3 linked regions of the Homo sapiens genome follow. The protein of the gene in region 2 purifies or fractionates together with the protein of the main gene of each other region. This does not show direct contact. Each region holds a gene or a part of one and is shown on either strand. Other genes may lie near its edges.

Region 1 (2,269 bases), on a different chromosome or scaffold from region 2:
CGTGCGCGAGGACCTCTATGAGGCTGCTGACAAGTGGGTGGCTGCTGTGGGCAAGGACCGGCCCTTCATGGGGGGCCAGAAGCCGAATCTCGCTGATTTGGTGAGTGTGGTGGTGGCAGGTGGTGCCTGGACCGAGGGTTCTGTCCTCAGAGTGGGGGAGGTTTGCAAGGGAAAGCCTGGACGGTGCTTGCATCTTGCCAGAGGAACCTGCCTCTCTCTGCCATCACGGACAGAAACTCGCCTCGAAGTGGCTCCAGGAGAGAAACAGATGACCAGGAACCGCCTTGGTTCACATAACTGACAAGTTCAGGGAACGGGTTGGCTTCGGGCCCTGCTGGATCCAGAGGCCCGGGTGGTGTTACCAGAGCCCAAGCTCTACCTGTCGCCATCAACACTGCCCTCCCTGGAGTTGGCTTCAGCCTCAGGCGGGCTGGGTCCGGTGCTCCAGGCTTCTCCCAGAAAACCCCTGGGAGGGCGTCTCACTGGCCTGGCTTCACTGCCCTTTTTCCTTTTGTTTTTTTTTGTTGTTGTTGTTTTTGTTTTTTTTTTGAGACCAAGTCTCACGCTGTCACCCAGGCGGGAGTGCAGCGGTGCAGTCTTGGCTCGCTGCAACCTCCGCCTCCCAGGTTCAAGCAATTCTTCTGCCTCAGCCTCCTGAGTAGCTGGGATTACAGGCCTGTGCCACCATGCCCGGCTAATTTTTGAATTTTTAGTAGAGACAGAGTTTCAGTATGTTGGTCAGGCTGGTCTCGAACTCCTGACCGCAGGTGATCCATCCACTTTGGCCTCCCAAAGTGCTGGGACTACAGGCGTGAGCCAGCGTGCCTGGCCCACTGCTCATTTTTAAAACTGTCCTGCCCCTGGGTGACCTGGGTCTTGAAACTGGGTGGTGGGGTCTCTTCTCCCCCATCTCAGGACCTGAGATGAGGGGAGGGCATTTATCCCAAGGAAACTTGCTGGGGGGCAGGGTCTGTGGCCCAGAAAAGGGGGTACAGATGTGAAGCAGGCGAGACCTGCAGCCACCCCACATGCTTTGTTCAAACCCTCACCTGTGCTGTTGGCCCTTGAGTGGGTCACGAGCTCCAAGGGGGGAGGGGACGGGACCTGGCCACACAGCTGGCAGGGAACGAAGGAGGTCTGGATGCCTGTCAAACCAGCTATGGTGACACGTTTCTGTTCGTGCCCCAGGCGGTGTATGGCGTGCTGCGTGTGATGGAGGGGCTGGATGCGTTCGATGACCTGATGCAGCACACGCACATCCAGCCCTGGTACCTGCGGGTGGAGAGGGCCATCACCGAGGCCTCCCCAGCGCACTGAATGTCCCCGCGCAGAGCAGAGGGAAGGCAGCGGAAGACGCCAGCTGCCAGGGCCTGGGGCCACTGGGCCAGCGCCTGGCGATACTGGTTGGGGGCAGGATCATTCTGCCCCTTGTCCACGCACCCCCACCAGCCCTCTCGCTTCTAACACAGGGCACCTGCTGGGGCTCAGGGATGTTAGGGACGAGTTCCAGCCCTGCCACTGCCCTGGGGCGACCCCTCCCTGTCCCTGCCTCCCTGCTCTGCCGCCCCTCTTCCTGGACCCTCAGTGGCTGTCCCATGGCTACATCCTGTGGGTGGGGGCCCTCGACAGGACAGCAGGACGGTTTGTTTTCAGTGGAATCCCATCCCTGGGTTCCCCTGGTTCCCACTCTTCCCAAGCCTCCCGGGACTGGGACATGTTTGCAATAAAGGAAAGGTTTGTGGCGCCTGTCATGGCAGGCATCTCATGGAGCTCCGTGTGGCTGAGTGCTGCGTGGGGCTGGCGGTCAAGGGAGGCATCAGGCTTGGGCTGTGCCAGCCCTTGTGGTAACTAACCGCTGGCCTGGGGCTTCCCAGGTGTCAGGCACGGTACGGCTCCGCAGGCTTTGTGTGGCATCGTCCCCAGGATACCACTCAGGGCACACAGCTGGGCCGTGGAGCCCAGCAGCCAGAGTGCAGGTCGGGGCACCCTACCCACGGTGGGGCTCTGCAGTGGGGTCACTCATCAAGCCTCAGTTTCTTCGTCTGTCCCCGCCTTGTGGGAGAGTTCAGTGATAGGAGCAGGTGCAGTGCACAGAGCCGGGTCACCTGGTCCAGGGCACCAGGCTATTCAGACCCCTGCTCTACAGACAGAACCAAGCCCTCTCAGGTGGCGGCCCCGGGCTTCAGCTCCAGGCTGGGCCAGGCTTTATGGGAGAAGAGGCTCTGCCTTCCAGGGTGAGTGTGGGTTGTGGGTGGGACCCCCTTTCCTG
Region 2 (3,822 bases):
CACCCCACTCCCACACCCCTTCCTATTCAGCTTACGTGAGGGTTCGCTCTACTCGGCTGCCCTGGCCTCCAATCACCTCTCCCAGGGCCAGGAACGCTTGTCCCAGGAAATCCTATGCAGGACAAGGAGTCAGCAAGACCAGAAGCTCTTGAGTGCTGAGTCCCAGCCTAGCCCCAGTGATGCTCCTGCACAGGACCAGGGCAGTTCCCAGGCGAATGAGTGGTGCAAGAGCCACGGCCCTACATGGGCTTTAATGGAGGGGGTGTGAAAGAAGGGGTCTGCGAGCAATCTCTGCCTTGTAGTGGGTCATCAGTCCAAGCCTGTTCTCCACAATACCACCCCCACCCCCAACCTCTGCCCAGCCCCATTCAGCCTCACCTTCTGCAGGTCCCAGCAGTGGCAGCCAAGAAGGAAGAGGAACAGTGAGTAGGGGGCACAGGCAGGACACTCAGGCAGGAGGAGAGGGACCAGGAGGGTGGGTTGGGGGCCTGAAGAAGATGGGGTCTGGGTCGAGGGTTGGGAGGAGTTCTGAGAGTCGTTGAACACATCTAAGTGCCTCCTGTGCGCTCCGCCAACCCTCGAGGAAACGTTTGCTCACCGGTTTGGAGATGTTGGTTTTGGAGTCCACGTTGTACCTGGGAAAAGAGTGGAACCGGTGTGGGGTGGGGCTGGGTGGGGGAGAGGGTGGAAAGGGGTCGGGCACCGAGTCTTGGTGAAAATTTTGGGTGGAGGGATGGGCGGCCGTGGACCCGAATTCAGCTTTGGTCTCCTTTTGGGGAGGAGTCAGGGTGGGCTGAGTAGTCAGACGGTCAAGCCTGGGCCGAGGCCAAGTCAGGGGCTGCTGGGGGCAGGGTTGTGTGGAAGGGGTCGGGCCTGAGGTGGAGCTGCGATAGGAGCAGAGTTGTGGGCGGGGCCAGAGCGGGGGACGGAACTGGACCGCATCTCATAAAAGGGCAGGGCTCAGGCTAGAGGGGGCCATTCAGAATGGGAGGGAGGCCTGCGAGAAGAACCAGGCCGGAGGCGAGGCGGGGGTGGGGCCAGCCAGAATTCCGGGCGGATCCAGGTCGGGGGCGGGCCAAGCCAGAATTCCAGGCGGGGCCTCACACATCGAAGCGCAGATTTTGCTTTTCCTCAAAGAAATAGTCGAGGACGAATTTGCGCACGAAGTCTGGGTTCAGCGTGTTATCAATCACCTCGGTCCGTCCGAACTGGGTAGGGGGGTGGAGGGTCAGCGTGGGACGTGCAGACGGGCAGGGGAATTCCCGGGCGACGCCCTGGGCCGGGAGGGGGCTCTGGGACTCACCTCCCGCCACTCCTGGCTGGCCCGGCTCTGCGTGTAAAGCACCACCACTGCAGGTGGGGGCGGGGAGGGAAGGACGTCAGGTCGGCTCCCACCCCTGGCCCCGACTCCACCCGCCCCTGAGTCGCGCCCAGACCCCAAGTTCCCCCTCCCGGTCCTGGAGCCGCCTACTGGGGTCGGACTTGGAGAAGGTATCAAGGTCTAGCAGGTTCCTAGAGAAAAGCAACAGACAGACAGAGTGGATCATCCTGGAGTCCGCCCGCCTCGAGTCGGCTCTGAGCCGGGCACTGAGGAGAGGCATGGGGCCCGCATCGAACCTCTGTCCCCCATGGCTACCCCCAGCCGGGGTCCGCTCTGTCAGCACTCTGGACAGCACCGGAAATCGCTGTCCAGGAACCATGGCTCTGCGGACTGGACGCGAACGCACCCACACTGTCTCCAAGGGCCCAGGAAAGAGGGCTCGCCCCAGAACTTTGTCCTCCTGGGGCCGAGCTCCTACCGGATATCTGCGACCCACCCCCTGAACCCGCAGGCTGAGCCCTTTTTTCGGGGTGGGGCTGCCCAAGACCCCCCGCTTCTCGATCCCACCAGCTACTCGCCCTGTCATCAGCTGTGATTTTCCAGCCAATTTCGCCTCTCCCCGGGGGTCTAGCCCCTGCCCAGGCTGAGCCCCGCGGCTGGCTGGGGCTGGGGCAGTGCCAGTGCCTAAGCCCTCCCCAGCGCGGCCCGCTCACCGGCAGGACACGGTAATTTCAATCTTGGTGGCCGGGACGCTGCGCTCGGAGGCTCCGCCGAGAGACATGGCTGGTCGGGCGACCAGAGCCGCAGGAGGCTGCGAGACCAGGGCTGCTGGGGCTAGGGGCGACGGCAGCGGCGGGGCCGGCCCATGTGCCGCGGTGTCGGCGGCGGCGGCGGCTGCACTCGCTCCAGCCCTGCGTGCGCTCCAGCCGCTCGCGCCCTGACAGTGGCCGCCGGCGGCAGCGGCTCCAGATGGCAGCACAGCCCCGCCCGGCCCTGCGGGCGGCCCCCGCCCCATTGGAGCAGCCTGGAGCCAGCGGGGAACCTCACCCCGACTCCCAACTCCAACCCACACCTTGGTAGAGTCTGCCCTGCGCAAGTCTCTGGGGTGGAAACCCAAGCCCCCTAGAGTTGTCCATGATGCTGAAACATTTGGGGCACCTGGTGGGCACTGGAATTGTTGCCTCTTACTGAGCCACTCCCTTAGTGTTTCTGTCTTTTCCCACTCCCAGCCTGCCTAGGTCTCTGAATAGGAAAAGTACATCTCTTAGTAGCTGTGTGACCTTGGACAAGTTACTCAACATCTCTGTGGCTCAACCGTGAAAGGCCGTCAGAAAGGCCTTTAACAGCAGCTACTTTAGGTGCTGTAAAATTTTACTGAGATAACCCAAGGAAAACACTTAGCACACAGCAAGTGCTCAGTAAACATTCACTGGTATTTATGATTTGTCCTCTGGGTATTCACAATGATGACAGTAAATGGTGGCTGTTGAGCACCGTGCAAAGCTGTCTGCCCATGCCTTTAACCCTCACGACTTTCATGGCGTTACAGATGCGGACACACTCTCATGACGCAATCTACTGTAGGTTACACTGTAGAAGAGGGTGGTGGTCAGCCAGGCTCTCACCCACCACACATGCACACCAATTGCTATCTCCAAAGCTTCAGAAGCCAGTCCTTCCTCCATAGGCAGGGCTCAAGGTAGGGGATGCAGGTCACCCGTACCAGGACCCTGCTGCCTACAGAACTTGTTAAAGATGAAGATCCTGGTCAGGTACGGTGGCTCATGCCTGTAATCCCAGCACTTTAGGAGGCCAAGGCAGGCAGATCACTTGAGCTCAGGAGTTTGAGACTGGCCTGGCCAACATGGTGAAACCCCATCTCTACTAAATACAAAAATTAGCTGGGGATGGTGGCACGTTCACGTAGCTACTCAGGAGACTGAGGCAGGAGGATCGCTTGAACCCAGGAGGCAGGGGTTGCAGTGAGCCAAGATTGTGCCATTGCACTCCAGCTTGGGTAACAGTGAGACTCCATCTCAAAAAATCTGAAAAAAATGAAGATCCTCCAGCTCCTAATTCCCAGGCAACTTCCTTAGCAACCCTAAGGCTAAAGCTCAGGCAGCCCTGGGAATGTGCACAGCTCATCAGGCTCTCTAGGTGACTAGGACCTGCTTAGGCCCGAGAACCACTACTCTCAACAGTCTTGAGTGTTGTCCCCACTGCAGGGACTACCATGGCTCATGAGTGGAGAGGTATACCTGTCGCCAGTTCTCTTCCTGTTTCACCTGCCCTCCACATAAAAACCCCTTGTCCAGCACAAGGAAGGACAATGAGAACCTTCCTAGTAGCTCCACAAAGACAATAACCAAATGATGACACAAGAGTGGCTATTCAAAAAGACTTTGATTTTATTTTGTGATCTGTGTCAAACTGCCTCATTCTCAGTGCAGGTGATCCCTCCTCCCCAGAAACAAGAACTGACAGGTAGGGTCTTTGTGAAG
Region 3 (3,722 bases), on a different chromosome or scaffold from region 2:
CTCACCATCACCTGCCCCACCTTCGGTGACTGGGCTCAGCTGGCACCCGCTGTGCCTGGCCTTCAGGGGGCGCTCCGGCTCCAGCTGCGGCTGAACCCCCCGGCGCAGCTGCCCAACTCTGAGGGCCTGTGCGAATTCCTGGAGTACGTGGCTGAGTCTCTGGAGCCACCGTCCCCCTTCGAGCTGCTGGAGCCCCCGACCTCCGGGGGCTTCCTCAGGCTGGGCCGGCCCTGCTGCTACATCTTCCCTGGAGGCCTCGGGGATGCCGCCTTCTTCGCCGTCAATGGCTTCACTGTGCTGGTCAACGGTGGCTCAAACCCCAAGTCCAGTTTCTGGAAGCTGGTGCGGCACCTGGACCGCGTGGATGCCGTGCTGGTGACCCACCCTGGCGCCGACAGCCTCCCCGGCCTCAACAGCCTGCTGCGGCGCAAACTGGCGGAGCGCTCCGAGGTGGCTGCTGGTGGGGGCTCCTGGGACGACAGGCTGCGCAGGCTCATCTCCCCCAACCTGGGGGTCGTGTTCTTCAACGCCTGCGAGGCCGCGTCGCGGCTGGCGCGCGGCGAGGATGAGGCGGAGCTGGCGCTGAGCCTCCTGGCGCAGCTGGGCATCACGCCTCTGCCACTCAGCCGCGGCCCCGTGCCAGCCAAACCCACCGTGCTCTTCGAGAAGATGGGCGTGGGCCGGCTGGACATGTATGTGCTGCACCCGCCCTCCGCCGGCGCCGAGCGCACGCTGGCCTCTGTGTGCGCCCTGCTGGTGTGGCACCCCGCCGGCCCCGGCGAGAAGGTGGTGCGCGTGCTGTTCCCCGGTTGCACCCCGCCCGCCTGCCTCCTGGACGGCCTGGTCCGCCTGCAGCACTTGAGGTTCCTGCGAGAGCCCGTGGTGACGCCCCAGGACCTGGAGGGGCCGGGGCGAGCCGAGAGCAAAGAGAGCGTGGGCTCCCGGGACAGCTCGAAGAGAGAGGGCCTCCTGGCCACCCACCCTAGACCTGGCCAGGAGCGCCCTGGGGTGGCCCGCAAGGAGCCAGCACGGGCTGAGGCCCCACGCAAGACTGAGAAAGAAGCCAAGACCCCCCGGGAGTTGAAGAAAGACCCCAAACCGAGTGTCTCCCGGACCCAGCCGCGGGAGGTGCGCCGGGCAGCCTCTTCTGTGCCCAACCTCAAGAAGACGAATGCCCAGGCGGCACCCAAGCCCCGCAAAGCGCCCAGCACGTCCCACTCTGGCTTCCCGCCGGTGGCAAATGGACCCCGCAGCCCGCCCAGCCTCCGATGTGGAGAAGCCAGCCCCCCCAGTGCAGCCTGCGGCTCTCCGGCCTCCCAGCTGGTGGCCACGCCCAGCCTGGAGCTGGGGCCGATCCCAGCCGGGGAGGAGAAGGCACTGGAGCTGCCTTTGGCCGCCAGCTCAATCCCAAGGCCACGCACACCCTCCCCTGAGTCCCACCGGAGCCCCGCAGAGGGCAGCGAGCGGCTGTCGCTGAGCCCACTGCGGGGCGGGGAGGCCGGGCCAGACGCCTCACCCACAGTGACCACACCCACGGTGACCACGCCCTCACTACCCGCAGAGGTGGGCTCCCCGCACTCGACCGAGGTGGACGAGTCCCTGTCGGTGTCCTTTGAGCAGGTGCTGCCGCCATCCGCCCCCACCAGTGAGGCTGGGCTGAGCCTCCCGCTGCGTGGCCCCCGGGCGCGGCGCTCGGCTTCCCCACACGATGTGGACCTGTGCCTGGTGTCACCCTGTGAATTTGAGCATCGCAAGGCGGTGCCAATGGCACCGGCACCTGCGTCCCCCGGCAGCTCGAATGACAGCAGTGCCCGGTCACAGGAACGGGCAGGTGGGCTGGGGGCCGAGGAGACGCCACCCACATCGGTCAGCGAGTCCCTGCCCACCCTGTCTGACTCGGATCCCGTGCCCCTGGCCCCCGGTGCGGCAGACTCAGACGAAGACACAGAGGGCTTTGGAGTCCCTCGCCACGACCCTTTGCCTGACCCCCTCAAGGTCCCCCCACCACTGCCTGACCCATCCAGCATCTGCATGGTGGACCCCGAGATGCTGCCCCCCAAGACAGCACGGCAAACGGAGAACGTCAGCCGCACCCGGAAGCCCCTGGCCCGCCCCAACTCACGCGCTGCCGCCCCCAAAGCCACTCCAGTGGCTGCTGCCAAAACCAAGGGGCTTGCTGGTGGGGACCGTGCCAGCCGACCACTCAGTGCCCGGAGTGAGCCCAGTGAGAAGGGAGGCCGGGCACCCCTGTCCAGAAAGTCCTCAACCCCCAAGACTGCCACTCGAGGCCCGTCGGGTGAGTACTGGAGCTGGGGCCCTGGGCTGGGTTAGCAGCTGCTTAGGCTGGAGAGCATAGCTCGTCCCCCTGTTTTTACATTTTCAGTTTTTTTAAAAGAGATGGTCTCACTCTGTCTCTGAGCTGGAGTGCAGTGGTGTGGTCACAGCTCATTGCAGCCTTGAACAATGGGGCTCAAGCCACCCTCCCACCTCAGCCTCTCCAGTAGCTGGGACTACTGGCACCGCCACTACCCCTGCCTAATTTTAAAGTTTTTGGTAGAGATAGGGTCTTACTATGTTGCCTGGGCTGATTTCAAACTCCTGGCCTCAAGCTGTGTGCCCACCTCAGCCTCCCAAAGTGTTGGGATGACTGGCGTGAGCCACGGTGCCCTGCCAGTTCTGTTCTTTTTTTTTTTTTTGAGACAGAATTTCGTTCTTGTTGCCCAGGCAAGAATGCAATGGCACGATCTTGGCTGACTGCAACCTCTGACTCCCGGGTTCAAACAATTCTCCTGTCTCAGCCTCCCGAGTAGGTGGGATTACAGGTGCCTGCCACCACGCCTGGCTAATTTTTGTATTTTTAGTAGAGTTGGGGTTTCACCATGTTGGCCAGGCTGGTCTCGAACTCCGGACCTCAGGTGATCTGCCCACCTTGGCCTCCCAAAGTGCTGGGATTACAGGCATGAGCCACTGCACCCAGCCAAGTCCTCCTGTTCGTAATTACTTCGTGACCTCAGCCGTGCCCACCTCTCCGGGGCTCAGTTTCTCCTGTGAAATGGAAACTGACCTCAGTGTTGAAGCACTTGCCATTCTGAGGTGCCTGGACAGGTGAGCACGTATGCCAACTGTGGGTTTCTAGAAGCCACAATAAGTAAAATGAAACAGTTGAAAATTTAAATAGCGTATTTTATGTAACTGATTGGTTAGGAGGACCCGGCCTATGGTTGCACTCATAGCAGAGCAAAATCAGCAAAGAGAAAAGGCACATAGGGTGAAGTCCAAAGGAAACCAGGCAGAAGCTTCCAGAATCCTCTCCCAGTGGGGCTGCACACCACAGGCTTCATTTCTCCAGTAGCAAGTTGTAACAGTGTGTCCCTCATGGAAGCTCATTAGACACAGCATGCCCAGGTTTCCTATTGGGCCATTACATAGGCATCTTCTGCCTGGCACCCACACTCTAGACTCCCCAAAAAGGAGAAATCAGGTGTGTGGTCCAGTCCAGGCACAGGGAGCCCCTCTCAGACAGGGAATGGTGGGAACCCTCTGCCTAAGATCCAAATTCCCAGAGACCAGCCAAAGGCTCACATTTTAAGCAGGCCTTGCTGAGAGGAGGGTCTCTGGCCTGCTGTGCTGTTCTTTGTTTTTTTTCTGAGACAGAGTCTCACTCTGTCATCCAGGCTGGAGTGCAGTGGCGCAAACATGGCTCACTGCAGCCTCGACCTCCT

Evidence for each region.
Region 1: the proteins of CPNE9 (region 2) and PTGES2 purify together in Homo sapiens (affinity purification with mass spectrometry; one large-scale study listed by BioGRID and IntAct). This does not show direct contact.
Region 3: the proteins of CPNE9 (region 2) and MAP1S purify together in Homo sapiens (affinity purification with mass spectrometry; one large-scale study listed by BioGRID and IntAct). This does not show direct contact.

Annotation. Positions count from the first base shown.
Region 1 is NC_000009.12:128,120,193-128,122,461, reverse strand, and holds the end of PTGES2 (prostaglandin E synthase 2), read left to right. Parts: coding exon 1-100; intron 101-1,188; coding exon 1,189-1,317; 3' UTR 1,318-1,769; downstream 1,770-2,269. UniProt on the Homo sapiens protein: Isomerase that catalyzes the conversion of PGH2 into the more stable prostaglandin E2 (PGE2) (in vitro). The biological function and the GSH-dependent property of PTGES2 is still under debate.
Region 2 is NC_000003.12:9,702,277-9,706,098, reverse strand, and holds the start of CPNE9 (copine-9), read right to left. Parts: upstream 2,267-3,822; 5' UTR 2,103-2,266; coding exon 2,035-2,102; intron 1,927-2,034; exon of another isoform or gene 1,908-1,926; coding exon of another isoform or gene 1,513-1,907; coding exon 1,472-1,512; intron 1,351-1,471; coding exon 1,304-1,350; intron 1,209-1,303; coding exon 1,105-1,208; intron 636-1,104; coding exon 599-635; intron 382-598; coding exon 379-381; intron 113-378; coding exon 36-112; intron 1-35. UniProt on the Homo sapiens protein: Probable calcium-dependent phospholipid-binding protein that may play a role in calcium-mediated intracellular processes. Plays a role in dendrite formation by melanocytes.
Region 3 is NC_000019.10:17,725,877-17,729,598, forward strand, and holds part of MAP1S (microtubule-associated protein 1S), read left to right. Parts: coding exon 1-2,296; intron 2,297-3,722. UniProt on the Homo sapiens protein: Microtubule-associated protein that mediates aggregation of mitochondria resulting in cell death and genomic destruction (MAGD). Plays a role in anchoring the microtubule organizing center to the centrosomes. Binds to DNA. Plays a role in apoptosis.